Linked DNA regions of Homo sapiens: regions 2 and 3 are each linked to region 1. The links come from fine-mapping of genetic effects on gene expression. A gene starts in region 1. Each other region holds a variant in brackets. All regions are shown on one strand. Distances are between the middles of the regions.

Evidence for each region.
Region 2: its variant is fine-mapped to the expression of RASGEF1B in whole blood (GTEx, PIP above 0.99).
Region 3: its variant is fine-mapped to the expression of RASGEF1B in cerebellar hemisphere (GTEx, PIP above 0.99).

Annotation. Positions count from the first base shown.
Region 1 is chr4:81,466,703-81,476,787 of GRCh38, forward strand. It overlaps RASGEF1B (RasGEF domain family member 1B), which reads right to left and starts at 5,205. Exons shown (of 14, transcript NM_152545.3): 1 at 5,068-5,205. RefSeq lists a silencer at 5,137-5,546.
Region 2 is chr4:81,500,564-81,510,909 of GRCh38, forward strand. It overlaps LOC105377306 (a long non-coding RNA gene), which reads left to right. Exons shown (of 3, transcript XR_938933.3): 3 at 749-874. Among named protein-coding and RNA genes, the nearest start is that of RASGEF1B, 34 kb to the left of the region's middle. RefSeq lists a silencer at 4,821-4,940. The variant G/C (reference allele first, on the strand shown) is at 4,849.
Region 3 is chr4:81,718,157-81,728,502 of GRCh38, forward strand. No RefSeq gene overlaps it. Among named protein-coding and RNA genes, the nearest start is that of RASGEF1B, 250 kb to the left of the region's middle. The variant G/A (reference allele first, on the strand shown) is at 4,701.

The DNA.
Region 1 (10,085 bases):
GAGCTGAGAACGCGCCACTGCACTCCAGCCTGGGCGACAGAGCAAGCCTCCATGTCAAAAAAAAAAAAAAAGAAAGAAAGAAAGAAAGAAAGAAAGAAAGAAAGAAAGAAAGAAAGAAAGAAAATTTCCAGATTATCTTCCCATTTCTGTCCTCAGTCAGAAGACGTCCTAAATCAGAGATTTCTAACAGCATCTCTGGAAACTGCAGAAATGCTACACCTCTGCTTACCTCCTTAAAAAAAAAAAAAAAAAAGAAAAAAAAGGTATTGTATTGAGAGGGCAAACAACACAGAGAAGACAACTCAGAGTCAACTCACTTCTTTGGTATGTGAACAGACAGAAACTCCAAGACTCCAAGATAAGTACCTTCTTTGAAAGTGAGTCCCACATGCTTAGTAGATTTCACAGTTAAGGGAGGAAAAAAAAATCAGTATTTTTGAGGAAGGAAGATCCTATTTCTCTCGCAATGAAACAGTGATATTATTTCCTGATTTATCAGCATCCATACAAAAAGTTAATTTCCATTCTGCTTGATTTGTCTTAGATGCTGCTTAAATATTTCATACTAATTCCTAATTGTTGGAGGAAGGGGATTCTGACTCAAATAGTTTACTATCTTTGGTTTCCTTGGAAGAAAAACAAAGCTAAGATTTGTCATCTTTTGTCTTGGGGATGTGTTGTTAGCAGTTTATTAAACCACAAATGACATTTCGGCACATAACCTGGAGAGTCAATTAAAACTCTTCTATGAAATAAATCTTTACTGTGTGGGAACTGAACCCAGGACATATTGAATGTAAAGAATGTAATGCATACATTCTTTATGCATTAACTTTTTAGCTACATCTTCCATGCAGTTCCTAAACCGGACAGTAGATGGCTCCTCGTTCCTTGTCTTTCAAAGAGTTGGCACTTTGTAGCAGTAACAGTGCTGGTTTAGAAAAGCAAAAGGATAACTAGAGTTATGGGGAAAATATATTGAGAAACTGGTATTTGTGATCTTGGCATATTATTGAACTATACAGCTCATACTGTACAGGTGAAGACGTACTGGCTAATAATGCCATTTGGTCATAATGCCTTACATTGTAGGTGCTCATCTATAATGAGAATTAAATATTTCATTTTCCTGGAAGAATAAAAATGATCTTCTGGATAATCAAAATCATCATTACCTAATTGAGTGCTGTCAAAAAGAACTTTCTGGGATACTGAAAATGTTTTTCTTTTGCACAATCCAATACAGCAGCCACTAGCCACAAGTGACTTACTTAGCACTTAAAATGTGGCTTATTGCAACTGAAAAACTAAATTTTAAATTTTGTTTAATTTAAATAAACTTAAGTTTAAATATTCCCATATGACTAGTGGCTACCATACTGAACAGCACAGATATGAGTAGCTGAATCATCATTTATACAAGGTAGATCTCAACCCAAATTAGATAATAGCATGTGGAGAACATTCTTTAATGAAAGGTTTTATTTTTCTACACCTAATTCATCTCAGGAAAATGATCTGATACCTAATGAGGATGTTTATTAAAAAGTAGAGTTTTCTATTTATATTTTAGTATATAACATGGTTACTGGGATAATTTTCCAGCTGTGAGTTTTTGAAAAACTATATTCATCCCTTCCCATTTTTCTCTTTTAGATCAATAGAAAGATATTGGTAGTCCAGGCTAATTTGTACTTTCTCTGGGTTAAACTAATTTTCTAAGCAGGGTTTCCTAATAAAGTTTGAATCAACTGAATGATTTCCAGACATAGGCATATCCTGAAATGAAATAATAAATATAAACCTAAGAAAAAATGATTGTTGAAGACAAATTTAAAAATTTAGTGGATAGTAATATTGATTTAATAGGCCAAAAAATAATCTGACACCAATCTTTTTGATAATCATTTTTAATATTCATACCTAAAGAAAAACAAAGCAAAAAGCAGTTTAATATTAAATTTCTACATGAATTCATAAATAAAAAAGAAATTTCACTCTCCTCTCTTCATTTCCATGTACCCAGAAAGTAGGTGAACACCTAACTGCAAATCACTTGTCCCTTCATTAGTCCACCTCTAAGACAGGGTGTAAATGCATGAAGCGATAGTACAACAAAATAAAGCAGTTATGACAGACCTAAAGAAACTCATAAATCATTCTGTTCAACTCCCCACAGTCGTTTTATAGACACTGCAGGCATAGAGAAAAAATAAATCACTGATTAGGGCTCCAGATCAACCAGAACCCAAGTCTCCTTATTTCCAAGGCAGAAATATGCCACAGCACTAGGCTATAACATCTGTCACTTTAGGATAAGCAAAGGTTGCATGGATCTTTTTTGTAGTTTTAACTGGAGAATCAAAAAGGACAACTATAGGTCTGAAAAAGTGAGGGGGGTGGGCTGGCAATACCTGAATTCAACTACTACTAATAAAAATCCCATAAATCTTAAACAGCATTTTTAACAGTGCAATTGGCCTCTTTAAGAAGTCACAAAATGTTTTCACAGCTTTTTCATTTATTATGTGTGGCATCAGAATCAAGTTTCCCAATCCCTGCTTCAAGGATTCTAGATTCTTCTCCCAAGCAAAGAAAAAGACATTCCATTCACCCATCTCCTTTCCAAGGAGGTGCTCTCCTGGGGCTATCCCAATGTTCCTCCCAAGTCCAATTCTTCCAGGTACTCTGCGGATATTGACAAAGCTGATCCCAACACTCCTGAGTCATACTAGGGATCCCAGCTCCTCCCCTTCAATTTTCTTACCATGTCTTTTTCCTTAGAAAGGTGTATTGAATTGTTTTTATATAGTCTATTGTACTCTATTAACTAGTAGTTAATTTTAGGTTCTAAGAATAAAATGTTATATAAGAACTATGTGTTATTATAATACTTTGATTTAGTTATACATATAAATACATATGTATATATGTACATATATGTGTATATATACACACACACACACACACATATAAATAATCTATTAGATGCTAAGCTGTAGGGGGTTAGCGGGAGACAATACATGGGAATGCTTTCTGGTGATTCTCTTCTCCAAAAGACAGTATGATTCCCAGGTATTAGATGTGTTAGTATCAGATAAAATATCCAGTGGAGCACATAAAATGAAGCAAGACTGAAAATGCACCATAGGAGAAATAAATTCTAAGAATGTAACACTTCGTTAGACAACTGGAAAGTACAAGGCCAATATGCTTAGTAGTTAGAAATGTTGCCCACCTCCAAGAAAACAAAGGATTGACCCGACATGCAGTGGAAGAATGCCAACAAGAAACTTGTTAATCAGTGGCTGATCTCATCTTCACCAGAAAATCTGCTTGAGAGGCATAATATAACGCTGTTTGTAAACCCTGATATCTGTCAAAAGTGCCCTAAGGTCCTCCTCTCTAGCTCCACCACTGCCCCTCACTTAAAAAAATAAAATTACCTTTAATGATAGGGTTTAACAAGCTGCCTTCTTTTTTTCTGTTATGAAAACCTCAACAGCAAATAATTTTTATTTCTTTTTATTAAAGAAAGCAACTCTATATTTGTTCTAAATCTCATGGGACCAGTTATTTTCACCCAAACGGCCAACCAGGTATATACGCTGCTTAACTGTAAACCTCCTTGTTTCTTAGCAGAGGCTTATCGCCATGGTCCAACTATGTTTTAAATTAAGGCATAGCCATCACATGCCAAGCTCTAGCTACTGTTTTCACGAGGAAAGGGCAATTATTCACCCCATCTGAGTGTGACTGTGCCAGACATCATTCAAGAGTGCACCACCCTGATCCCTAGACTCTTCCCCTTTATGCACCCAGTTCAGAGACCCTCCCTTCGGCCATTAGACCATCTGAGCTAAATATAGATCTACACACACCAGCAGTTCCTGACCGTCGTCACATGGTGCTGACGAAGGACTCCTTGGAGACGCGTTCGGCCCAAACACATACACAAATTTGTGTGCATATTCATCTATATACACCATATCCACCGAATTCATCAGGGAGGATGGACACATCTACATTCCGAAGAGAAAATCGCCGTCTAGACAATCTCCTTGTGTTATCTGCCACACTTGTGCCACCCTCGGCAGTGTCAGAGGATTAAGCTACGTTGCTTTTGCCTGAACTGCGCCGATTTGGTTGGGGCAAGACAGCAAGCAGTATTGAAATGGTACGTCCATACACACACACAAAGGCGCGCGCACCCCAGCCCCCGTCTCGCCCTTTTCCCTGGTGCAGCACTTAAGTTGTTTTCACAGCTCCCTTAGAAAGAACCTCCCTTAAGCTGACTGCCCGCGAGGCTCCTAGATACCTCTAGCTCATCTGAGATTCCCCAGGCAGGTGACCCGAGGCGACTCAACTGAGCTCTGGCAAAAGCAAGGCGACTCAGTGTCTCCCAAGTTTGCCAGGTGAACACCGAAGGATGACAGCACATCACCTTGTCGGTGGCGAGTATGTGACTTCTGTTCCCTTGTCCCTTCCTACGAGTCAGACTTTAGATTACATGGCACTGACAACAAAAATAAACAGCTCCCCCTACACACACACGCACACAAAACTGGTCAAGAAGTGGAAGAATCAACCTAGGTATGCACACGAAGGAAAGAAGGGATGAAAAAAATGATGGACGCGATTACAACTCAAGACAAATCCTCAAAAACCACCTATCTCGAGACAGAAGGCCTGGCTGCAGGATCAGGGAGAAAGAGGGAAGGCACAACCCAACCCAACCCAAGCCTGGCCCTGCCCGGGTCCCAGCGGCTCGGCCTCGCACCTGTTGGGGCCGCGGCAGTCCCAGGTACCCGCAGCGGCCGGGCAGGGGCCCTCCCCCGGTCCCGGGCTGTAACTCGGCTCTTGGCGCCCGCGTTCGCGCTCACTCGCCTCGGGATCTCCCGCCGCCTCGGAGCGCACCCGGCAGCCGGTGAAGTCTCTGAGCCCCGCTCGCTCCCCGCGCGGCCCAGGGATCTCCAGGGAGAGCGCAGCGCGCAGTAGGGTCCGGAGTTCCCGCTCCGGGCTGTGGTCCCCCAGCCGGGAGAACAACCCAGCCAGGGAACAACCTACCTGCAGGTGAACTCCGAGTCCTCGGCCTCCCGGCTGCGTGCCGCGCGCCCACAAATGCGACCAAAGGACAGGGAGCTAAAGCGCGCGGGAAGAAGAAAAACAAAATCTGTCTAACCAGTCGGGTTCCTTGTTTATACTGAAACTACGGCAGCCGCCGCCGCGCACGCCCCCCTTGGCTCAGGCGCCTGCCTCCCGCTGCCAGCCCCGCCCCGCCCCGGCAGGCGCGGGCCAATCACCGCGCAGCTCACCGCCCACGCCGCCGCCACCCGGCCCGGCAGGCAAGTCCCAGTGGGCCCCAGACTCCCGCAGCGCGTCAGCCTGGGTGCCCTCCCACGCGGCAGAGGCCCGCGGAGCCCAGCGCAGCGGTGTTTAACAGCGTTGGTCAGGCTGGCTCCGACTGTGCGCGTTTCCTCTTGAGTGCACCTGCCCCGGGCTGTTGTGCAGTCGTGAGTGTGTGTGTGTTCATTCACGTGTATACTATCTGTAAATACCGGCCCGACTCGTTACACAGTATTTATTAACATAATTGTGAGCTAAAGGTTACTGTCCATGTAACTTTCAGAAGAGAGCGGAGAGGAACCACAGAACATTTGCTTAGCAAATAACACATAGATCCTGGTGCTAAGCACTGTGCAAAACGCTGGGGGCACACTTGGCAAAGTAGGCTGGTCTCTGCCATTGTGAAACTTACATAGTCTAGTGGAGGACAGACATTCAGCAAATAATCACCCAAACAAAATGTAGAATTACAGCTGCTAGAAGTTGCACGGAGAGGAACCTGTTCCGTGAAACATGATTCCGGAGGCAAAGCAGGGAGGCTAGTCCTCAGTGAGGGCTGTGTTGTCATGGTAACCACGTACTCACTCCATCATGGGATATTTGATAACTATTTCAGAAAAAAGGTAAAAACCTCCGTACTTCACTTTGTACACATAAAAGGAGGCCAGAGGGAAATAATGATGGAAACAAGGGAAGAAAGAGACCTATGAAAAGAAAAAATTTACAGAATTAGGAGACTCTTACCAACTGTATTTCCTTGAGTAAGTGATACAGCTTTTCTGAGCTTCAGTTTTCTCATATATAAAACAACACTATTCATACCTGTCCTATACTGTTATAATTAAGATTACTGAGGGGGAGGAATCCTTTTCCCTCCTGCTCCATGGGTCCCTCCCCCTCTCCTTCCTGGGGTGGAGTCATTTTGACGCTCACTTTGTCTATTCTTAGCGGATTCCTCTTTCATTTTCTTCATTTATGCCTCCTTTTACTTTTCTTCCTCTTTATGATACTCCTTCCCTCCTTTGTGTAAATAGGACTCCTCTGATTCAGTAATTCACTCTAACCTACTTGAGCCTTTGACTTAACCATAGCTTCTCTGCAGTTTAAATGAGAAGCCATAAGGCCAAGGGAACTTGGTGGGCCAGCCATGCAGAGTGAAACACAGAGGCTGGGTGGCCCTGCCCTGCTGTTGTGGTTGTACTGGTTGGTTGATTTTTCAAGCTCAGTTTTTGCATCCCGATTCTGTAACAAACGAGCCATATGACATTGGGCCAGTCACTTACACCCTTGACATTACTGATCCTGTAGCCAGAAATTAAGAGTTGCAGGGGATTGCTGGCAAGATGGCTGAATAGGAACAGCTCCAGTCTGCAGCTCGTAGCGAGATTCACACAGAAAGCATGTGACTTCTGCATTTCCAACTGAGGTACCCAGTTCATCTCACTGGGACTGGTTGGACAGTGGGTGCAGCCCACGGGGAGTGAGCTGAAGCACGGTGGGGCATCGCCTCACCCGAGAAGTGCAAGGGGTTGGGGAATTTTCTCCTCTACCCAAGGGAAACCATGAGGGACTGAGCCTGAGGAACTCCAGCACAGATACTGTGCTTGTGCCAGTTTTCGCAACCCACAAACCAGGAGATTCCTTCCAGTGCCTACCCCACCAGGGCCCTGGGTTTCAAGCACAAAACTGGGTGGCCATTTGGGCAGACACCGAACTAGCTACAGGAGTTCTTTTTTTTTCCATACCCCAGTGGCGCCTGGAACACCAGCGAGACAGAACCGTTCACTCTCCTAGAAAGGGTTGCTGAAGCCAGGGAGCCAAGTGGTCTGGCTCAGCCGGTCCCACCCCAATGGAGCCCAGCAAACTAAGATCCACTGGCTTGAAATTCTCACTGCCAGCACAGCAGCAGTCTGAGATCAACCCAGGACACTCGAGCTTGGTGGGAGGAGGGGCATCCACCATTGTTGAGGCTTGAGTAGGCAGTTTTACACTCACAGTGTAAACAAAGCCTCTGGGAAGTTGGAACCGGGCAGAGCCTACTGCAGCTCAGCAAGCCTGCTGTGGCCAGACTGCCAAATTTCCCTTCTCTGGGCAGGGCATCTCTGAAAAAAGGCAGCAGCCCCAGTCAGGGACTTATAGATAAAACGCCCGCCTCCCTGGAACAGAGCACCTGGGGAAAGGGGCGGTTGTGGGCGCAGCTTCAGTAGTCTTAAACGTCTGCCTGACAGCTCTGAAGAGAACAGCAGATCTCCCAGCACAGCGTTCAAGCTCTGCTAAGGGTCAGACTGCCTCCTCAAGAGGGTCCCTGACCCTCGTGTATCCTGACTGGGGGACACCTCCCAGTAGGGGCTGACAGACACCTCCTACAGGAGAGCTCTGGCTGGCATCTGGCAGGTGCCCCTCTGGGACAAAGCTTCCAGAGGAAAGATCAGTCTTTGCTGTTCTGCAGCCTCCACTGTGATATCCAGGTAAACAGGGTCGGGAGTGGACCTCCAGCAAACTCCAGCAAACCAGCAGCAGAGGGGCGTGTCAGAAGGAAAACTAAAAACCAGGAATAGCACGTCCACTGAAAAACCCCATCCGAACATCACCGACGTCAAGGACCAAAGGTAGATAAATCCACAAAGATGAGGAAAAACCAGTGCAAAAAAGGCTGAAAATTCCAAATCCAGAACACCTCTTCTCATCCAAAGGATCACAGCTCCTCACCAGCAAGGGAACAAAACTGAATGGAGAATGAATTTGACGAATTGACAGAAGTAGGCTTCAGAAAGTGGATAATAAACTCCTCTGTGCTAAAGGAGCATGGTCTGACCCAGTGCAAGAAAGCCAAGAACCTGGAGAAAAGGTTAGATGAATTGCTAACTAGAATAACCAGTGTAGAGAAAAACATAAATGATGTGACAGAGCTGAAAAACACAGGATGAGAACTTTGTGAAGCATACACAAGTATCAATAGCCAAATCCATCAAGTAGAAGAAAGGATATCAGAGACTGGAGATCAACTTAATGAAATAAAGAGAGAAGACAAGATTAGAGAAAAAAGAATAAAAAGAACACACAAAGCCTCCAAGAAATATGGGACTATGTGAAAAGACCAAATCTACGTTTGATTGGTGTACCTGAAAGTGACTAGGAGAATGGAATCAAGTTGGAAAACACTCTGCAGGATATTATCCAGGAGAACTTCCTCAACCTAGCAAGGCAGGCCAACATTCAAATTCAGGAAATACAGAGACACCACAAAGATACTCCTCGAGAAGAGCAACCCCAAGACACATACTTATCAGATTCACCAAGGTTGAAATAAAGGAAAAAATGTTAAGGGCAACCAGAGAGAAAGGTCGGGTTACCCACAAAGGGAAGCCCATCAGACTAACAGCAGATCTCTCTGCAGAAACCCTACAAGCCAGAAGAGAGTGGGGACCAATATTCAACATTTTTTTTTTTTAGATGGAGTCTCGCTTTGTCACCCAGGCTGGAGTGCAGTGGCATGATCTCAGCTCACTGCAGCCTCCACCTCCCAGGTTCAAGCAATTCTCCTGCCTCAGCCTCCCAGGTAGCTGGGATTATAGGCCTGTGCCACCACACCCAGCTAATTTTTTTTTGTATTTTTAGTAAAGATGGGGTTTCACTATGTTGGCCAGGCTGGTCTCGAACTCCTGACCTCCAGTGATCCACCCACCTCAGCCTCCCAGAGTGCTGGGATTACAGGCGTGAGCCACCGTGCCCAGCCTCAACATTCTTAAAGAAAATAATTTTCAACCCAGAATTTCACATCCAGCCAAACTAAGCTTCATAAGCGAAGGAGAAATAAAATCCTCTATAGACAAGCAAATGCTGAGAGATTTTGTCACTCCAGGCCTGCCTTACAAGAGCTCCTGAAGGAAGCACTAAACATGGAAAGGAACAACCAGTACCAGCCACTGCAAAAACATACCAAATTGTAAAGAACACCAATACTGTGAAGAAACTGCAACAACTAAAGGGCAAAACAACCAGCCAGCATCATAATGACAGGATCAAATTCACACATAACAATATTAACCTTAAATGTAAACAGGCTACATGCCCTGATTAAAAGACACAGACTGGCAAATTGGAAAAGGAGTCAAGACCCAACAGGGTACTGTATTCAGGAGACCCATCTCACGTGCAGAGACACACACAGGCTCAAAATAAAGGGATGGAGGAAGATCTATCAAGCAAATGGAAAACAAAAAGAAAAAGCAGGAGTTGCAATCCTAATCTCTGATAAAACAGACTTTATACCAACAAAGATCAAAAGAGACAAAGAAGGGCATAACGTATTGGTAAACGGATCAATGCAGGGAGAAGAACTGACTATTCTAAATATATATGCACCCAATACAGGAGCACCCAGATTCATAAAGCAAGTTCTTAGAGACCTACAAAGAGACTTAGACTCCCACACAATAATAGTGGGAGACTTTAACACCCCACTGTCAATATTAGAAAGATCAACCAGACAGAAAATTAACAAGGATATTCAGGACTTGAACTCAGCTTGGACCAAGTGGACCTAATAGAATTTATAGAACTCTCCACCCCGAATCAACAGAATATACATTCTTCTCAGCACCTCATCGCACTTATTCTAGTATTGACCACATGATTGGAAGTAAAACACTCCTCAGCAAATCCAAAAGAACGGAAATCATAACAGTCTCTCAGACCACAGTGCAATCAAATTAGAACTCAGGATTAAGAAACTCACT
Region 2 (10,346 bases), 34 kb after region 1:
GAACCCCTGACCTCAAGCAGTCTGCCTGCCTCAGCCTCCCAAAGTGCTAGGATTACAGGCATGAGCCACTGTGCCCGGCCAATATTTTAAAGGGATTGACTTCGAATAGAAGCAAAGTTAAGCTCCCCTAGCATTACAGAACAATTTGCATCATACTTTTTCTTCTGAGAATATCAGATTCTTTCCAAATACTGGCTGGCAAATGCCATCTTTGTGCCATGAATTTCTGAAAGCCAATTTGTGGATCTATACACAGAAAATTATTAGGAAAGAACACCATAGTAGTCTTTGTTGCTAGAATCTGTTCACTGAGCAATGGCAAAGCTATTAACATGCTTGATATTAACCTGCTAAGTGAGTCAGAGAGCTGCTTCCATTCTGTTTTAAGCAGAGCTTGTTTTGGATCAGAAACCTGTAATCTACACAGGTAATGCTGAAGTTAACATCAAAATAAGAGGGACAGAGCTGTTTCTGTGAATGCCACACATTTTCTTGAGTGAAATATGAGTCAATATGACTGCACTTGGGAAACAAAAGAAGAATTAAAATAGGTCTAACAGAAGGTCAAGGTAGTCTGATGAAAGGGTCAGGAAGATGTTTCCTTTGGGCATATTCTGTGGCTCATGAATCTCCTGACATCTTCTGGGGCTAAGAGCCCACATCTTTCTCATTCCTCCATCTGGGCACTGTTAGGACTAGGGGGTGTCACAGAAAACGGTTGCTAGTTGCACAGTGATTCCTTCTGCAGATTGTCTTCATTTCCTTGTTGATTGGTTTGAACCTGGGGTCATTATCTCTGCTTTGCAAATGAAGAAGAGAAAGAAGCTCAAAAAGGACAAGAAACTTTCCCCAAATCGAACAGGTAGTAAGTGATAAAGGCCTAAAATGAACCTGGGTCTTGACTCCTGGGTTGGTGTGTTTCAATCATGTTAACTCCCAGCCCCAGGAAGCTTGGTGAATATTACCAGAGATAGGACATAGCAAATCTGGAAGGACAATGACTACCTGACCAGGGCCAAAAGAGCCGACTGTCTATGACCGTGATTATGCTAACTAATAAGTATCTGAGCAGAAACAGCAAAATCTGTTCTAATCTACCAAAAGAGGCTGCTGAGATGGGCAGGGTGGCTCCCTTCAGACTGAACTCATTCCTTCACAAGCACGCAGGAGAATCAGGGCCAGCCAAGTGGTGCCTGTGGGAGGCGTTTGAGGATGGGTGGCCAGGGAAAGTGAGAGTTTTTAAACTAAATCAAGTGGCTCTTCTGGGTTTGCTCCGAACCTTGAATGTTTTAAGAGTATGGGCTTTGGAGTCGGGGGACCTGAGTTCTGCACCTCACTAGCTGCTTAGGCTGGGCTAAGTTTAGTTAACTAAATCTCATTCTCTTCATTTGTAAAATAGTAATGACAACCATATCTTCCTCAAAGGCTTGTCGTGACAAACTGAGATGAGGTTTGTCAAGTGTTCAGCACAGAAAATGCTCAACATCTCCCTCTGGATGTCCAGCAGTTACTTCAAATGCATCCCCCAAGGCAGTTCATCTTCCATGTAACTATAATAATCACAGTAAAAAGCTACTGGGAGCTGTCTGTGTTCTGTGATTTACACTTATTATCTTATTTAATCCTGCAGTTAGGAATTATTTTTTACTTTTACAGATGGGGTAACTGAAGCTCAGAGAGATTGACCAACCTGCCCAAAGTTTCACAGCTGTTAAATGTCAGACCAGACTTTGAAGCTAGGGTCATCTGATGCCAAAGCCCACTCTGGGCTAAACCACCTTGCCCTTACCAGAGATGAGTACACAGGAACTTTGATTTTCTTTTTTCCCTTGGTTTCACATTCACACAATGAGGAATTCTTCCCCTGCTGTTCTATCTCATGGGGATCTTTTACATCTTGTCCAACCTTTGCATTCACTCTGCCTACCTGACTTCAGGACCAGTTTTGCATCTGCTGGACACCGTGAACTGCTTCTGCATGGCATAAACTGCTTTCTGAATGCCCCTTCCTCCACCCAAGTCCTTTTTCTAGTTCACCTCCACCTACCGTAGTGCTGCCCGATTAACCCCCTAAAGGCTAGCTTTCATCATGTCTCTGCAGAAAACTTTCAATGACTCCCCACTGTCTGCTGCCTACTAGTTAGCCTGGCAGTCAAGGTCTGGTTCCTCCACAAATGCACAACTTAGCTTTTCAGTTCTCACTACTTCTTTTATATACTCAGCAGAATGCAGATGCCATGACGACAGAAATGTGTACCCTTTCTTCACTGCAACATCCCCAACACCTAGAATAAGGCCCTGTTTATACTAAGTGCTCATTAAATATTTGTTGAAGTATGAACTGAATGATTTTTTTGCAGCCAAAATTATTGTATTTTCTTCCCACCGTGTTTTACTGTAAAGACATTGAAAGACATGAAATCTGCTTTCTTTTTTTGAAGCTGCTGGTATATTTTTTAGAAATGAAGAAAAGCCAAAACAAGATTTGAAAAATTTGATATATTTTCAAAGGTAACATTTATCAAATTAATGCTTTTAGTGTCTACAAAACACAATGTCACATAATTGTGCTATTCAAAGATAATTACAGGGTCTATAAAAATACTCATTCCTAGTCATCACAGGCAGTGTGATCCAGTACTGGAATAGTTTAAAATAGGGTGACATAGGACGTCTTTAGCATTGCCAATGTATGCATTACTGAGTCAGGGTATAAACTTTTCTGTGGGCCCTCCTGAATGTGGCCTGGAACTAATGGTTCTGTGGCCCCACCACATGTCCTCACGCCCTATATTCATGCATTCCTCTCCTTCCCTTCCATCTGCCCACCTTCATACTCCATCTATCCTTCAAAGACAACTAAATGTCTCTCTCCCATCTTTTTCTAGAGCTCCTTCACCAGAATAATTTGCTTATTCTTCTGGCTTTCCCATAGCAATTTAATTGTAGGTTCATATGTGTTTATGATTTATTATTTTAGTTATATAAATTTTCACTAGGTTCATGGGAACAGAACCCATCATCTATTTCTGATGTATCTTTGTACCCACTCTCTGCCTACTGCTTTGTATCACGTCATGTCCACAGATGCTCAATATATATTTTTGAATAAATAAATGAATGTGGCAATGTAGGTAAAAATAACAGATGGCTGAAGTCTCGGCATTAGGCATTTGGCTGACTTTACCAGTTGGCGGAGGGAGTAGGGGAGAAGGGAACTGTGTCTGACAGAGGGTTAGCAGATGAGAGGCAGCAAATCTTGAAAAGCAGCATGGCCTGCTGATTAAGGATCAGTCTTCAGGCTGACTGCTTGGGTTCAGATACTAGCTCTGTCTCTCATTTGTTGTATAAGCTTTAGATAACAGATGATAGTTTTACGTACCTAATAGGTTTTGTTGTGAAGATCAGATGAGCTTATAAATGTTAAGTGGTGATTCTTATTGTGGTAGATTGCAATATTGTTTCAAATATTTTGCTACCTTTCATGTTAAAACACACACACACAGACACACACAGACACACACACACACAAAAGACACACACAGGCACACACAGACACACACACACAGACAGACACAGACACACACCCACACAGACACACACACAGACACACACACACACAGACACACACACAGACACACACACACAGACACACACAGACACAGACACACAGACACACACACAGACACAAACACACAGACACAGACACACACAGACACACACAGACACACACACAGACACACACGCAGACGCACACACACACTGACACACACAGACACACACAGACACACACACACACAGACACACACACAGAGACACACACACACACACACAGACACACATCTGTCTTAGCTGCTGTTCTGGCTGCTATAGCAAATTGCCATAGACTGGATGGCTTAAAAAACAAACATTTATTTTTTAAACTTCTGGAAGCTGGAAGTCTGAGATCATGATGCCAGCATACTTGGGTTCTGGCGAGGGCCCTCTTCTGTCCTTGTGTCCTCATATGGCAGAGACAGGATGACTTCTCCTTGTGTCCTCATGGCAGAGAGAGGATGAGAGAGATCTCTTGGGTCTCTTTAATAAGAGCACTAATCCCATTCACGAAGCCCCCACCCCCATGACCTGATCAACTCCCAAAGGTCCCACCTTCTAATACTATCACATTAGGGATTAGGATTTTAACCTATGAATTCTGAGGGAACAGAAATATTTAGTCTGCTAGTCTGCTGCATTATCCCTGGCTACTGTCATGTGACTTGCTGTGTTCCTTTCATTGACATCAGGCTTGGCCATGTGACTTGCCGTGATCAGTGGCATTTGAGTGGAAATGACATATGCCCTGACTGAGCAAAGGCTTTCTGGGCCATTGCGCCCTTTTCTGTCTGCCACAAGAATGACATATCTCAAATAGGGTCTTCTCATTCACCCTGATCCTGCACTGAAGAAGCCATTTGGAGGAGTCTCACCCATCACAACCACCTACAACCTCTGTTATTGTAAACTACTAAGATTTGGGGGTTATTGCTGTAACACAGCCTGGTGAAAGCTGACTAATAGCCCAGTGTAAGGAAGTACTCAATCCATGTAAAGCCCTTAGAACAGTTCCTGGAACATAATAAGGGCAAAACAATGATTATCATAGTCGATGCACTGACTTTTGATACACTTCCTAATTTGCACTTACTTGTCTGAAATTAAAAGCCTCATCCTTGGAGTCTTCCAAATATTCTGTCACAGACAATCATCTGACTAAGAGTTGGAAGGCGTGGGTTCCGGTTCTGACTCTGCCCTGTGACGGCGCTCACGGGACATGTTCTTTCTGTTTCCTCACAGATAATTGTCAAA[G/C]TTCCTTCTAGTTCAAAGAAGTTTCTGAGTCTGCAGACAAGCAGCTGTTGGAACCGTCCACATCAGGAAACAAGTGTTAGCTCTACCAGTCACAAAGCTGGGTGATTTGTGCACCTTAGCTTCTCCGTCCTTTTCTTCCTTCAGAGGTTTATGTGAGGCTTTAGCCATTGCCAGTTTTCAAAGAAATGGCATTTTTATAGGCTCCTGCAGCAAGACAATGTTTGTTTTTTTTCCCATTAAGTTGGGGCGCAAAACTCTTAGCCAGAGGAAAAAGTGGTTCCCTAAAAAAGTGAAATTCATGCTTTACAGGGGTTATGAAAAAATCTTTGGCTAACCAAGTATTCTCTAGCATAAAAGTACCAAAACCAACCAAGCAACCAAACAAAAAGCCGGGTACAATCAGAGAAGAAAGCAAGGCTGCCATGGTGAGCAGAGCTCTGGCCTGAGAACCAAAGCCCTGGGTCCCAGCCTGTTTCTGCAGTTAGTCGGCCAGGTGACCTTGGGTAATCACTCATTTCTTTCTATATGTAATAATAAAGGATCTCCAGACTCCTGTCTAGCACTAGCTAATATTTCATCACTATGACTCCATCAGAGTTAACTGACAGGGTTGTTTTTTACAGGCTTTAAGTGGCAGTTCTCTTAATTTGCAGAGTAGGGGAAATATAATAAAGAGGGAAATGTTTACAGGGGAGCCCAGCCCACACTAATCTTCTGAATTGGTAATAAATTTTGATCCTAAAGGAGGAATAAAAGAAAGAACTAGATTTATAATCATTTAACAAGCAAACATTATATGATTTATCAGAAGAACAGGTAGTCTAGTATCTAGTATCTTTTCCTGCCCATCCTCGGGGATTTTCTGTTTCAACTAAGGAGAGCTGATCTCTGCCATATTTCTCCCAGTTCTGTTGCAATGTATCCAAGGCAGGGCTGAGATCAGCCAGAGGTCTGCCAAATAGAGTGTAGGTACCAAAGTTTGCCCATGGATTGATGTATCATTGGTTTCAAAAACCAGGTCCTCCTCCCATCCCAGCACCTTGGGATGACAGGTGCCTGCTGTTCCCAAGTCTCTGGCTTCAGCAGAAGAGACAAAGAGTCCAGCTTCCAGGCCCCTCCTTTTCCTAGATTCCCACCATCATCCTTCCTCAGCCTGGCCCACTCTTGCATGTGAGCAGAGATGGCTCCAAGATTGGCTTTGGTAAATATACAATCTAAATAAGAACATAAGCTTCAATACAGGTTCCTAGGGAGCCCCTACCCCACTTTAAGAACATATTATCTTTACCACATAGAGATTCTATGATGGTCAGAACTTGTGAAAGCCCACCCCCAGCCTCAGAAGGGCATGCCAGAAGAATGGGTCATGAAGGTGCCCTGTTCGAATCTCCCTGTGGGAGGGCCTATTGTGTGGGGCATAGTTGATTCATAGTCTTCAGCTGTTGTACCTTGGATTGACTGCAGCGTTCACTTCCAGGTCACACTTCCCCAGGCTGCCCCAGTCAATGACTGAGTACAGTGGTGGGTGCTAGAGCTGGGCCATTCCTGCCTAAAGGGGGATTCCTCAAATGGGTGCCTTTGGTTCAGGGACTCTCCATCAGGCTGGCCACAACTCTCAGAACTGCACTTTGGTCTGAAGCACTTTCTACTCAATCCTTTCTTCTGTTTCTCCTTTCATAGGTCTCAGAGCTGCATCATGGGCTGCAGGCTTCCTCCACCTCCTCCAGCTCCCTCCACTTTGTCCTTTATCTTTCACAGGCTCTTCTCTTAGTAAACCACTTGCACTTCTAATTCCAGTTGGCATCTGTCTCTTACAGAAGCAGGGTATGATGCTTTTAAGTCTGTATGCCTGGCCCACTGTATTAGCCAGGGTTCAGAGAAACAGAAGCAATATGATATATCTGTATATGTAGATATAGCCTATAGATATATAGATATATCTATATGTGCAGATATGTAGATATAGCCTATCAGTCTACAGGATATACATATAGACATACATATAGACACACACACACACACACACACACACACACACATACACACACTATAAGGAATTGGATCATGCAATTACAAAAGCTGAAAACTCCCTAGATCTGTATTCAGTAAGCTGGAGACCCAGGAGGGCCAATGTGTAGTTCCGGTCCAAAAGCCACCAGGCTCAAGACCCAAAAGGAGCTTGTGTTTCAGTCCAATTCTGAAAGTCAGAAGGGACTAATGTTCCAGCTCAAGGCAGTAGGTGAGAGGAGTTCCCTCCCACTCCTGGGAGGGTCAGCCCTTTTGTTCTAGTCAGGCCTTCAACTGATTAAATGAGGCCCACCCACAACAGGGAGGGCAATCTGATTCCCTCAGTCTATCAATCAGTTCAAATGTTAATCTCATCCCCAAACACTCACAGACCCATCCAGAATAATGCTTGGCCAGAAATCTGGGAAACCATGCCCCATTCAAGGTAATGCAGAAAATTAATCATCACACTCACCTAGTGCAGCAGTTAATCAGTTAAATCACTTCTGCTGAAGTCATGCATACCAGTCAAGTTCTCATACTGCAAGAGGCATTTATGTTTACATCTGTCTCTAAAAAGTCTGTGAATGCCTGGAAGGTGGGAATCATGTCTTATTCATTTTTAGATCCTAAATACAGAGTGGAAGTTCAATAACTTATATTTATTGAGTTTCTCCTATGTGCCATGCACAAGGTGCTAGGGGTATAGCAATAAATGAAACAGGCCAGGTCCTTGTCCTCAGAGACCTACATTTAGGTAACAGAGAGAAACAAAAATAAAACAATTGAACATACAATATAATGGACTGGTGATACGTGTGACAAGAGGAGAATAAAGCCTGGCAAGGGGATAGAAAAGAATAGAGAAGTATCATTTTACATAGGTGTTCAGAGAAGGCTTGAATGAATAACTGAATAGATGACAGAAATTATTAATGCAGGTATCAGCAAAGTTGTTCAAGTGTGTTGGGGTAAGCAGAATTCAGAGGCACACAGAACAGAAGAAAGGCCTCCTCCCCACACCAGGGAATCAGCTCAACTAAATTGTTACTTCTCCCAGCTGTGGCTTTATACTGTTCTTCTTTGCCTTCCTCACTTCTATTTTAACAACTTTTTTTTCTTTTTAACAGAGTGGGCACAGAGTGCCTTTTTAAAGGGACTTCCTTACTGCAGTAAGTTTTAAGTCAATGTTATTGCTACACTGACCTTCTTCAACATGAGGGCTTAGGGCCAGTTTCCACTTCTGAAGAAATTCCTCTAAAAGTAGTACTCTGGAGACACTTCAGTAAATGAAGATAGACTTGGCAAAGAAATTCCAAGCCTACAGGCAGATAATTAAGAGAGATTTTCAAAGCCGAGGGGGAAATCAAAGACCATTATGTATGTATGGTTTGCACTAAACCACTTTTATTACAAATTGAGCTCCATACAGCTGTGCAGCAATTGAAGAGGAGACTATACAGCCAGTGAAGGAATGACAGCCATGTGGATGCCAATTTTCTAGTAGTAGCCTACAGAAGCCACACGTAAGTTAGGTTTCACAGCTTGTCATGAGTAATTTCAAAAACCAAAGTAGATGATGTTATTACAGGTCTAAGAAGAAAATGATGATGTAGCAAATGAGGGGGAAAAAAATCAAAATTTCCCATTCCCTCTTAGACCTCCCTACTCAATTCCTTCCTCTCAACAGGGATGTGGTAAAATGAATAAGATTTTGTGTAGAGCCATCTGAAGTGTTTGAGAGGTTTAGTGGAAGAGTCTGGGCTTCGGAACCAGGCAATAGAAATACAATTTATTTCACCCACTTATGAGCTGTGTAGTCCCAGGCAAGTTATTGAGTCTCTCAAGCTCCACTTCTCTTGACTATAAAATACCTACTGGAGTTGTCATGGTGATCACGTGAGACAGGGCAAGAAAAGTGCCTGGCACAGATAGGTGCTCAATGAACAATTTGTTTTCTTGGGAAGGAAGTTACTTAAGAAATCCAAATTAGCATTTGTCACAGTTTCTCATCAAGAACAGGGATTACAAAATCAAGTATCTCTGGTAAGCCTAGTAAGCCTACAGAAGAATTTGTGGTTTGTATTGGGAGGAAACAACTGTGGCAAACTGGAGGGCCCGTATCTACCCAAAGACGGCAACTAAAGGATTTATGCCTGATAAAAGGGGATCCCATCTCTCCTTTGAAAGGTGGCTACTGGAAGCCTTGCCTCATAGAGAGGGGACAGTTGCTGCTAGCTCCTCTCTGGGGATAGTACAGACCCCATACTGGGAGATTTTTTTTAAAAAAGAATCTCCAAATCCATATTTCTATGTGAAACTTCCAGGTCACATACAGTGGTTCCTAATTCAATTAATAAAAAACATGTAACTGAGCATGGTGGCTCTCTCCTGTAATCCCAGGGCTTTGGGAGGCTGAGGTGGGATAATCAGTTGAGGCCAGGAGTTCAAGAACACCCTGGGTAACATAGCAAGACCCTATCTGTAAAAAGAAAAAAAAAATAGCTGGATGTGGTTGTGCATGCCCGTAGTCCCAGCTGCTGGCGAGGCTGAGGTAGGAGGCTCACTTGTGCCCACGAAGTCGAGCTGTGACCACACCACTGCACTCCAGCCCGGGTGACAGAACGAAACCCTGTCTAAAAAAAAAAAAGAAAAAAGAAAAAAAAAACAAAAACAGGCAGACCACAAAAGTATCTGGGCAGGCATGATGTGGCCTATGGGCTACCAGTTTGCAACTTCTGGAAAAGGAACATTTCGTGATTACATTTTCATTCATTGTATAATAAAATATTTTAGTTTAAAAATAATTCTTCAAATAATTCCACCAAGAGCAAAGAAGCCAACATACAAATAAATTTCTTCTTGTATATTTCTATTTCTAGGACATCAAGGACCCAAAATAAACTTTAAAACCTATGAAGGAGTTTGTTGGTATTTATTCCTCAGGGGTCAGCTGATTGCTGATGGGCAGAGAGTTCAATAGTAATGCATAGGAAAAGACAAATTGATCCCTGCTGATAAAGCTGTTTTCTGTGTATGTGCTCATAAAATGTGATGTCCCCACCCTGCCCCGGATTCTATTGGTAGCACAGAGGGGTCAAAGCATTAATGAATAGTCCATGAGATTGTTTCCTTCAGATTTTAAGAGAGAGGGCAGAAAGACCTTAGAAGAAATTATTTCATGTTTAGAAAAATCTTCCTATTGGCTCCAGATTAGCTTCACAATGACAAAGAATGTTCCAGAGAAGAGCTGACTGGAAACTATCAGTGGCTGAAAAGTATTAAGCCACCAATATTTTAATTAACTTGTTCCACTCCATTTCTGGGCTTACCACAGAGGAAGAAAAGAAATTGTATTTCAATATAAAAAGTCACAGTAAATGTTAAGCTCCATGTTTGATTGACAGTCACCCACACACCCACATACACTAAAACTAGCAGCTATAAATTTGAAGCATTTGTAAGACCCAGGGGATTTCTAGAGTGTGTGA
Region 3 (10,346 bases), 250 kb after region 1:
AGACACAATGCACCAAAAACTCTGGAACACAGCTAAAGCAGTGTATAGACGGACATTTGTAGCAATAAATGTCCACAGGAGAAAGCAGGAAAGATCTAAAAATCGACACTCTAATATCACAATTAAAAGAACTAGAGAAGCAAGAGCAAACAAATTCAAAAACTAGTAGAAGACAAGGAATAAATAAGATCAGAGAAGAACTGAAGGAGATACAGACACAGAAAACCCTTCAAAAAACCAATGAATCCAGGAGCTGGTTTTTTGAAAAGATTAACAAAACAGACCACTAGCCAGACTAATAAAGAAAAGAGAGAAGAATCAAATAGACATAATAAAAAATGATAAAGAAGAGATCACCACTGATCCCACAGAAATACAAAGTACCATCAGAGAATATTATAAGCACCTCTATGCAAATAAACTAGAAAATCTAGAACAAATGGATTCCTGGACACATACACCCTCCCACGACTAAATCAGGAAGAAGTTGAACCACTGAACAGACCAATAACAAGTTCTGAAATTGAGGCAGTAATTAATAGCCTACCAACCAAAAAAAAAAAAAACACCCAGGACAAGACAGATTCACAGCCAAATTCGACCAGAAGTACAAAGAGGAACTGGTATCATTCCTTCTGAAACTATTCCCAACAATAGCAAAAGAAGGACTCCTCCCTAACTCATTTTATGAGGCCAGCATCATTCTGATACCAAAACCTGTCAGAGACACAACAAAAAAAGAAAATTTCAGGCCAATATCCCTGTTGAACATCGATGCGAAAATCCTCAAGAAAATACTGGCAAACTGAATCCAGCAGCACATCAAAAAGCTTATTCACCACAATCAAATCGGCTTCATCCCTGGGATGCAGGGCTGGGTCAACATATGCAAATCAATAAACATAATCCATCACATAAACAGAACCAATGACAAAAACCACATGATTATCTTAATGGATGCAGAAAAGGCCTTTGATAAAATTCAACACCCTTTCATGCTAAACACTCTCAATAAACTAGGTATTGATGGAACATATCTCAAAATAATAAGAGATATTTATGTCAGACCCACAACCAATATCATACTGAATGGGCAAAAGCTGGAAGCATTCCCTTCAAAAACCAGCACAAGACAAGGATGCCCTCTCTCACCACTCCTATTCAACATAGTATTGGAAGTTCTGGCTAGGGAAATCAGGCAAGAGAAAGAAATAAAGGGTATTCAAATGGGAAGAGAGGAAGTCACATTGTCTCTGCTTGCAGATGACATGATTGTATATTTAAAAACCCCATCATCTCAGCCCCAAAACTCCTTAAGCTGATAAGCAACTTCAGCAAAGTCTCAGAATACAAAATCAATGTGCAAAAATCACAAGCATTCCTATACACCAATAACAGACAAACAGAGAGCCAAATCATGAGTGAACTCCCACTCACAATTGCTAAAAAGAGAATAAAATATCTAGGAATACAACTTACAAGGGATGTGAAGGACCTCTTCAAGGAGAACTACAAACCACTGCTCAAGGAAATAAGAGAGGACAGAAACAAATGGAAAAACATTCCATGCTCACGGATAGGAAGAATCAATATCGTGAAAATGGCCATACTGCCCAAAGTAATTTTTAGATTCAATGCTATCCCCATCAAGATACGACTGACTTTTTTCACAGAATTAGAAAAAACTACTTTAAATTTCATATGAAACCAAAAAAAGAGCCCGTATAGCCAAGAAAATCCTAAGCAAAAAGAACAGAGCTGGAGGCATCATGATACCTGACTTCAAGCTACACTACAAGGCTATAGTAACAAAAACACCATGGTACTGGTACCCAAACAGATATATAGACCAATGGTACAGTATAGAGGCCTCAGAAATAATGCTACACATCTACAACCATCTAATCTTTAACAAATCTGACAAAAACAAGCAATGGGGAAATGATTCCCTATTTAATAAATGGTGTTGGGAATACTGGCTGGCCATATGCAGAAAACTGAAAGTGGACCCCTTCCTTACACCTTATACAAAAAGCAACTCAAGACGGATTAAATACTTAAATGTAAGACCTAACACCATAAAAACCCTGGAAGAAAACCTAGGACATAGGCATGGACAAAGAGTTCATGACTAAAACACCAAAAGCAATGGCAACAAAACCCAAAATTGACAAATGGGATCTAATTAAACTAGGAGCTTCTGGACAGCAAAAGAAACTATCATCAGAGTGAACAGGCAACCTACAGAATGGGAGAAAATTTCTGCAATTTATCCATCGGACAAAGGGCTAATACCCAGAATCTACAAGGAACTTAAACAAATTTACAAGAAAAAAACAAACAAACAGTCGAGGAACAGTGGCTCACGCCTATAATTCCAGCACTTTGGGAGGCTGAGGCGGGCAGATCACCTGAGGTCAGGAGTTTGAGACCAGCCTGGCCAATATGGTGAAACCCTGTCTCTACTAAAAAATACAAAAATTAGCTGGGCATGGTGGCAGGTGCCTTAATCCCAGCTACTTGGGAGGTAGAGGCAGGAGAATCATTTGAACCCGGGAGGTGGAGGTTGCAATGAGCTGAGATCGAGCCATTGCACTCAAGCCCAGGGGACAAGAGCGAGACTTCTCTCAAAACAAAAACAACAACAAAAACAAACAAACAAAAAACCATCAAAAAGTGGGCAAAGGATATGAACAGACATTTCTCAAAAGAAGACATTTATGCAGCCAAGAAACATATGAAAAAAATTCATCATCACTGGTCATTAGAGAAATGCAAATCAAAACCACAATAAGATACCATCTCACGCCAGTTAGAATGGCGATCATTAAAAAGTCAGGAAACAACAGATGCTGGAGAGGATGTGGAGAAATAGGAATGCTTTTATACTGTTGGTGAGAATGTAAATTAGTTCAACCATTGTGGAAGACAATGTGGCAATTTCTCGAGGATCTAGAACCAGAAATACCATTTGACCCAGCAATCCCATTACTGGGTATATACCCAAAGGATTATAAATCATTCTACTATAAAAACACACACACACACGTATGTTTATTGCAGCACCATTCACAATAGCAAAGACTTGGAACCAACCCAAATGCCCATCAATTATAGACTGGATAAAGAAAATGTGGCACATATACACCATGGAATACTAAGCAGCCATAAAAAAGAATGAGTTCATGTGCTTTGCAGGAACACGGATGAAGCTGGAAATCATCATTCTAAGCAAAGTAACATGAGAACAGAAAACCAAACACCGCATCTTCTCACTCATAAGTGGGAGTTGAACAATGAGAACACATGGACACAGGGAGGGAAACATCACGCACTGGGGCCTGTTGAGGGGTGGGGGGCTAGGGGAGGGATAGCATTAGGATAAATACCTAATGTAAATGACAGGTTGATGGGTGCAGCACACCACCATGGCACGAGTATACCTATGTGACAAACCTGCATGTTCTGCACATGTATCCCAGAACTTACAGTATAGTTTAAAAAGAAAGAAGAATTAATACATATAAAATGCTTAGAACACAACAACTCAATAAATGCTAGCTATTGTTGTTACTACTATTTTTAGAGACAAGGTCTTACTCTGTCACCCAGGCCAGAGTGTAGTAGCACAATCTCTGCTCACTGCAGCCTCAAACTTCTGGGCTTAAGTGATCCTCCCACCTTAGCCTCCCAAGTATCTAGGACTATAAGTACATGCCACCACATCTGGCTAAGTTTATTTTATTTTTTGTAGAGACACACCCTATGTTGCCCAGGCTGGTTTTGAACTCCTGGCTTCTAATGATCCTCCCACGTTGGCCTCCCAAAATGCTGGGATTACAGGCAGAAATGATAGTACCCTGCCAATTCTAGCTATGATTATTGTACGGTAAGGTGAAAAGCTTTGTGTCCCCTCCCAAAATATGGACAGTTGCACACAGCATAAGAAAACAATGTTCATGTTCCCCTGTCTTCGTCCCTCCATCAAAAATACAAAATAATAAATGATGTTTAATTTTAATGTCTAATTCAAAACAAAATTTAAATGCACTTTTTCTAACCATCCCAGACAAGTATTCAAGTAATATGTGCCTCCCCTGTCAGGATAGCCTGTCTTGGGGCTCTCACCTTCTGCCCTTAGTACAAGAGATGAGAATGGCAGGCCAAGGTGTCCTGGGAGTAATTCATCCCTGAGTGACAGCTGGTGCTGTCAAGAGTCGTTATTGCTGGTGCGCACAGACCTTCTGGCAAAGCCAGGCGAAACACAGAAACTGCAGTCTCCCTGCCCACCTGTCAGCCTCGTCCAGGAACAGCAGAGAAATTTGCTTTTCTTCCTTCAAAGGGTCCAGCAAGCCCTAGCACCCTTATTAATGCATGCCTCTTCAGTCCCAGCCTGCCTCCCTACCCTCCCTGAACACAGACTTCCCAACCTATTCTTCCAAGAAGGGGATTAGCTCAATTAATCTCTGGACAAATGTCAAGGAGTCTGGGGGAGGGGGCACCTTTCAAGTGCCGCGCCCCAAATAGCAAATAAAGCCAGACATGCGCTGAGGCCACACCGCACAAGGGTGAGCTGCAGCAGCTGCCAACAGGATAGACCGAGTCCTTTTAATGTCAGGCTTAGCTTCCCAGGGGCTCACTTTCTTGCCAGCCTGTTCTGACAGACCACAAGCACCAGGCTCTCAAGTTCTCCTCTCACC[G/A]TCTGGGACGGGGGTAGTCGCAGGAAAGCTGCTTCGGGATCAGAATCCATTTTTGAGGCAAACGTTGCTCTCCTCTCATCTCCTGTGTTGCTGCCTTCTGTGCTTGCCCTCTCCTCTCTGGGCCCACCTGCCTCCCCCACCTTCAAAGGGCAGGCACTCCCCTCCAAAGCATGGTTAAAAAAAGATAGTTCCTAGGTTCAGAGTAAGGAAACCAAGTAGGCAAAAAAGCCACAGGGAGAAAAGCCAGGAATGGGTGGGAGTGGAGGAAATTCTCATTATCTAAACACAAAATTATTTTCCCCCAACCATAAGTTTCATCAACCTGATCCACAGAATTTTGGGAAAAGCCCTGAGAGTGCTTTCTCTTTGATCTAATTCCCAGAAAGACTTCATTCAATCCATCCAAGGGAGTGACTGAACTGGTAATAATTCTCTAGAATAGAGATTTCCCAATTGCTCTATGCTCATTCCAATTTTTTCATTTGTAAGGTATTTTCTATTAGTTTAATCCTTCTCTGTCTCTTTCTCCCTTCCTCTTCCTTTTCCCCTCTCTCCCTCTCCCCCTCTCTCTCCTTAGCCAGCAAAATCTGGCCTAACCAGCAGGCTATTAAACAGCACTTCCACATGCTACAGTCCAATGATTTGGTAATTAATTTTCATAATGATGATCTGGAAGGATTTCTACAGCCTCTTGAAAGATCCAAGAAAATATATACCCTACTGGTTATACATATGCTTTGAGTGTGAGAGGTAGCCTGGGTGTCCAGTTCTGGTGGTGTCATTTACTAGCTGTGTGGCCTCGGGCACGTTACTTAACCTCTCTGCCTATTACCATTTCCTCATCTGTGATACGAGGATACAAAGTTTATTAAGAAAGATAGCAGTTAACACTCTAGTTATGAAATATGTCCTATGAACCAGACACTATGCCAATTGATTTGCCTGAATTATTTTATTTAACCCTCACAACAACTGCTGAGTCAATATTAAGGGGATTTCATCACAGTCTCATTTGTTCAATATTAGCAATACACATATTGTACCTATGGTGACTATAAACCAGAATATCTAATTAATGTAAACATCTCATTTCCTCACTAGAAGAAGACACAGGCAGTCTACTTCAATTATTATCCAAAGCTCTTCTGTTCAGATGCGCTTTTGAATTCAGAAAATTTTTGGACTTTAGAAAGACAATATGGTTCATATAACAAACAGAACACACTGGTCTGGGGCAGCATCCTGTAACTGAACGCATTAACATTTCTGCTCTGAAACATGAATCTTCTCCCTAAAGAGAACAACACAGAGCTTCCTGTCATCTCAAAACAGGTTTTGTTACCAAAAGTCATTCAGAACAGGTAGTTTTACCATCAAATAAGTTAGAAAAGAAAAAAATAAATAAACTTAGGCTATTGTTTGTATTTCAAAATTTCAGATAGGACATTGTGAACTTTATTACACAAAAGCACTAAATAAAGAATCAAGATTCTAGTCCTGGCTCTAGTAGTAACCGCTGTGTAATTGTGGGCAAATTGCCAAGGTGCTCTGGTTTCAGATTCTTCATCTACAAAATAGGTGACTACTACTTTCTCCTAAGTTATACAGAAGTAGCTGTGAAGATCAAATGAGATAGAATTCATCAAAGTATTTTGAATAAGTGAAGTGTTTACCAAATTCAAGCTGTTTATTATCTTTTAAAATGATTTTTTCAATGATTATAGATTTAATTATGCACTACTGCTTCTTGTTTGAATGGCACAGTGTTGCTTACATGGGAAAAGATTCCCCAATTAAATCTCCTTTTTGCATGTATCACTGCTGTTGTTTCTTATACATCAATAAAGATCAGCAAATACATGATGACTGCACTACTGAAATATTTCTCTGGGTTAAACTACAAGAATCACCTCTAGGAAATAATGATAAGCTGCTGTGTCAAATCACTGCAGTTACTGAATACCTGAAAGACCATTTTTTTGTTTTGAAGAAGCAAGCTGTTCAAGTGTCAGGTTGATTTTAACCTGATTTTACAACTTCTTAAAAATCTGCTCATGTCTTCCTTTTCTGGGCGGTCTATGAAGACAGCATTGGCCTGGGAGTTTGATGATCCAGTTGCTAGTCCCAGCCTGACCTCTAATGTTCTGTGTCATCTAGGACAAGTCACAACACCTCTGAGATGAACTCTCCAAGTCCCTGAGCCTAGTCAGACTTTGGGAGGCAAGAGAGGGTTCACTGCTCCTATTTGTTGTCCCCAACAGAAGACTTTCAAGCCCTGGTTGTTCACAGGATTCAAGCCCTGGTTGTTCCTGCCACACACTCCTGGCTGGCTGGGAGCTGCCTTTGCACTGATATCAATCACATGTTGCTGATGTCAGCCCAGCTGTGACAGCTGAGGCCACCACCACCCACAGCTGACTGAGTGAGTCACATCTGCCTGCTTTCTCTTTGACATGAACCTCTCGGAAGCCCAGGGACAGAGCCCATAACCTGCTTCTCCCTTTGCAGCTCTTTATATTCTTTCAGCTTGCACAGTCTCCATGGCTGAGTGATTTGTCCCATTAGCCATGGTTTTACAAAATTAACCATGAATGTTCTCCAGCATCCGTGGTAACCTTTCTGCCAAGGAGCAATTATAACTATAAGATATCTTCTTTTGATGTTGACTTTTACAAACAGAGGATCCCTGGCAATTAAAATGCAATGAGGTGGTTATCTCATTAAAAAAATTATAAATACTCCCTTTCATAGAGACGAAGGACACATTAAGTAACCTTTACTATATAATAAAGCTGGTAATTATTATCAATAACAGAAGGACATTCTGTGTTTTAAAATCCAAGGTCCATGACATATGTGAAATGGTAGGGTAAATGTAATATAGAAAAAAAAAAAACACTAGACTTAGAACCTGAACTTTCCTTGCCCCCAAGGAGGCTGTGATCAAACAGATGAGGCAAAAATATAAAGCGATTATATTATTATATTTATTATATAAAATAATATGTAGGGGTGGAGCAAGATGGCTGAAAAATACTCTCTAGCAATTGTCTCCCCACAGGAACACCAAATTGAACAATTATCCATAAAAGAAAGCACTTCAGCAAGAAGAGTAAAAGATAAACCTACCAAAAATAACAACTATGACTGCTTTTTAAGTGATAGACAACATAAAAGACATAAAAAGAGACAAGAAAAAGTCTAAAAGCAGGATAGGAATTAAAATGTGGAGTGTTTCAGTTTTCTCTTTGCTTGTTTGTAAGCAGAGTTAAGTTGTCATCAGCTTAAAATAATTGGTTATAAGATGTTATTTGTAAGCCTTGTGGCAACCACAAGACTTAAACCTATGGTAGATACACAAAAAATAAAAAGCAAGAAATTAAAAAAATACTACCAGAGAAAATCACTGTTACACAAAGGAAGACAAGAAGGAAGAAAGAAAGGAAGAGGACCAACAAAACAACCAGAAAAGAAAATGGCAATAGTGAAGTCCTTACCTTCAATGATAACATTGAATGTAAATGAACTATATTTTCCCATCCAAAGACAGAGTGGCTGAATGGATAAAAATAGGACTCAACCATATGTTGCCTACAAGAAAATCACTCCACCTATAAAGACATGCATAGACTGAAAATAAAAGGTGGGAAAAAATATTTCATACAAATGTAAACCAGAAAACAGCAAAAGTAGCTCTACATTTATATCACATAAAATATATTTCCAGACCAAAACTGTAAAAAGAGACAAGGTCATTATTAAATGATAAAGGGGCCAATTCGGCAAGAAGATATAACAGTTCTAATTATATATAAGTCAAATGCTGGAGCACTCAGATATACAAAGCAAATATTATTAAAGCTAAAGAGAGGCATATACCCCAATGCAAAATTAGCTGAGAATTTCAACACCCAACTTTCAGCATTGGATAATCATATATACAGAAAATCAACAAAGAAACGCTGAACTTTATCTACACTATGGACCAAATGAACCTAATAGCTATTTACAGAATATTTCATCCAATAGCTACAAAATATTCATTCTTCTCATTGGTACATTGAACATTCTCAAGGATAGATCATATGTTAAGCCACAAAACGAGTCTAAAAAAATTCAAAACAAATAAAATCATACCAAGTATGTTTTCTAAATATGATAAAACCAAACTAGAAATCAATAACAAGTGGAACTTTGGAAACTGTATAAACACATGGAAATCAAATAATATGATCCTGAACAACCATTAGGTCAATGAAGAAATTAAAAAGAAAATTTAAAAAATTTTTTGAATCAAATGAAAAATGAAAACACAATGTACCAAAATCTATGGGATATAGCAAAAGCAGAGGTAAGAGGGAAGCTTATAGCAATAAACATCTACATCAAAAAGGGAGAAAAGCTTTAAATAAACAACCTAATAATGCACCTTAATGAAGAACTAGAAAAGCAAGAGCAAACCAAATTCAAAATCATTAGAAATAAAGAAATAAAGATCAGAGTAAAAATAAATAAAATTGAGACTAAAAAAATACTAAACACCCACAAAATGAAAAATTGTTTTTTTGAAAACATAAGCAAACTTGACAAACCTTTAGCAAGATTAACTACGAAAAAAAGAGAGCAGACCCAAGTAAATAAAATCGAAATGAAAAGAAAGACATTATAACTGATACCACAGAAATTTGAAGTATCATTACAGACTATTATGAGAAACTATATGCCAATACATGGGAATGTCTATAAGAAATGGATAAATTCCTAGACACATACAACCTACCAAGATTGAACCATAAAGAAATCCAAAACCTGAATAGACAAATAACAAGTAATGAGATACAAGCAATAATAAAAAAAGTCTCCCATCAAAGTAAAGCCCAGGATTTTATGGCTTCACCACTGAATTCTAACAAACATTTAAAGAATTACTTACACCAATCCTACTCAAACTATTCAAAAAAAAATCGAGGAGGAGGGAAATCTATCCAAACTCATTCTACAAGGTTGGTATTACCTTAATACCAAAACCAGACAAAAGCACAACAATAAAAGAAAACTAGAGGTCAATATCCCTGATGAACATAGATGCAAACATCCTCAACAAAATACTAGCAAACTAAATTGAGCAACACAGTGAAAACATCATTCATCATGATCAAGTGGGATTCATCCCAAGGATGCAAGGATGGTTCAACATAAGCAGATCAATCAACGTGACACATCATATCAATAGAATAAAGGACAAAAAACATATGATCGACCGGGTGCAATGACTCATGCCTGTAGTAACAGCACTTTGGGATATCAAGTCAGGCAGATCACTTGAACCCAGGAGTTTGAAACCAGCTTGGTTTCAAACTTTGTGTCTAGAAAAAAAATACAAAAATTAGCCAGGCATGGTGGTGCATGCCTGTAGTCCCAGATACTTGGAGGCTGAGGTGGGAGCCCTGCTTGAAACCAGTAAGTCAAGGTTGTCGTGAGTTGTGATCACACCACTCCACTCTAGCCCAGATAACAGACTGAGACCCTGTCCCATAACAAACAAACACCATACGATCATTTCATTAAACGCTGAAAAGGCATCCAATAAAGTTCAACATCCTTCATGATAAAATCTCTCAGACAACTGGGTATAGAAAGAACATA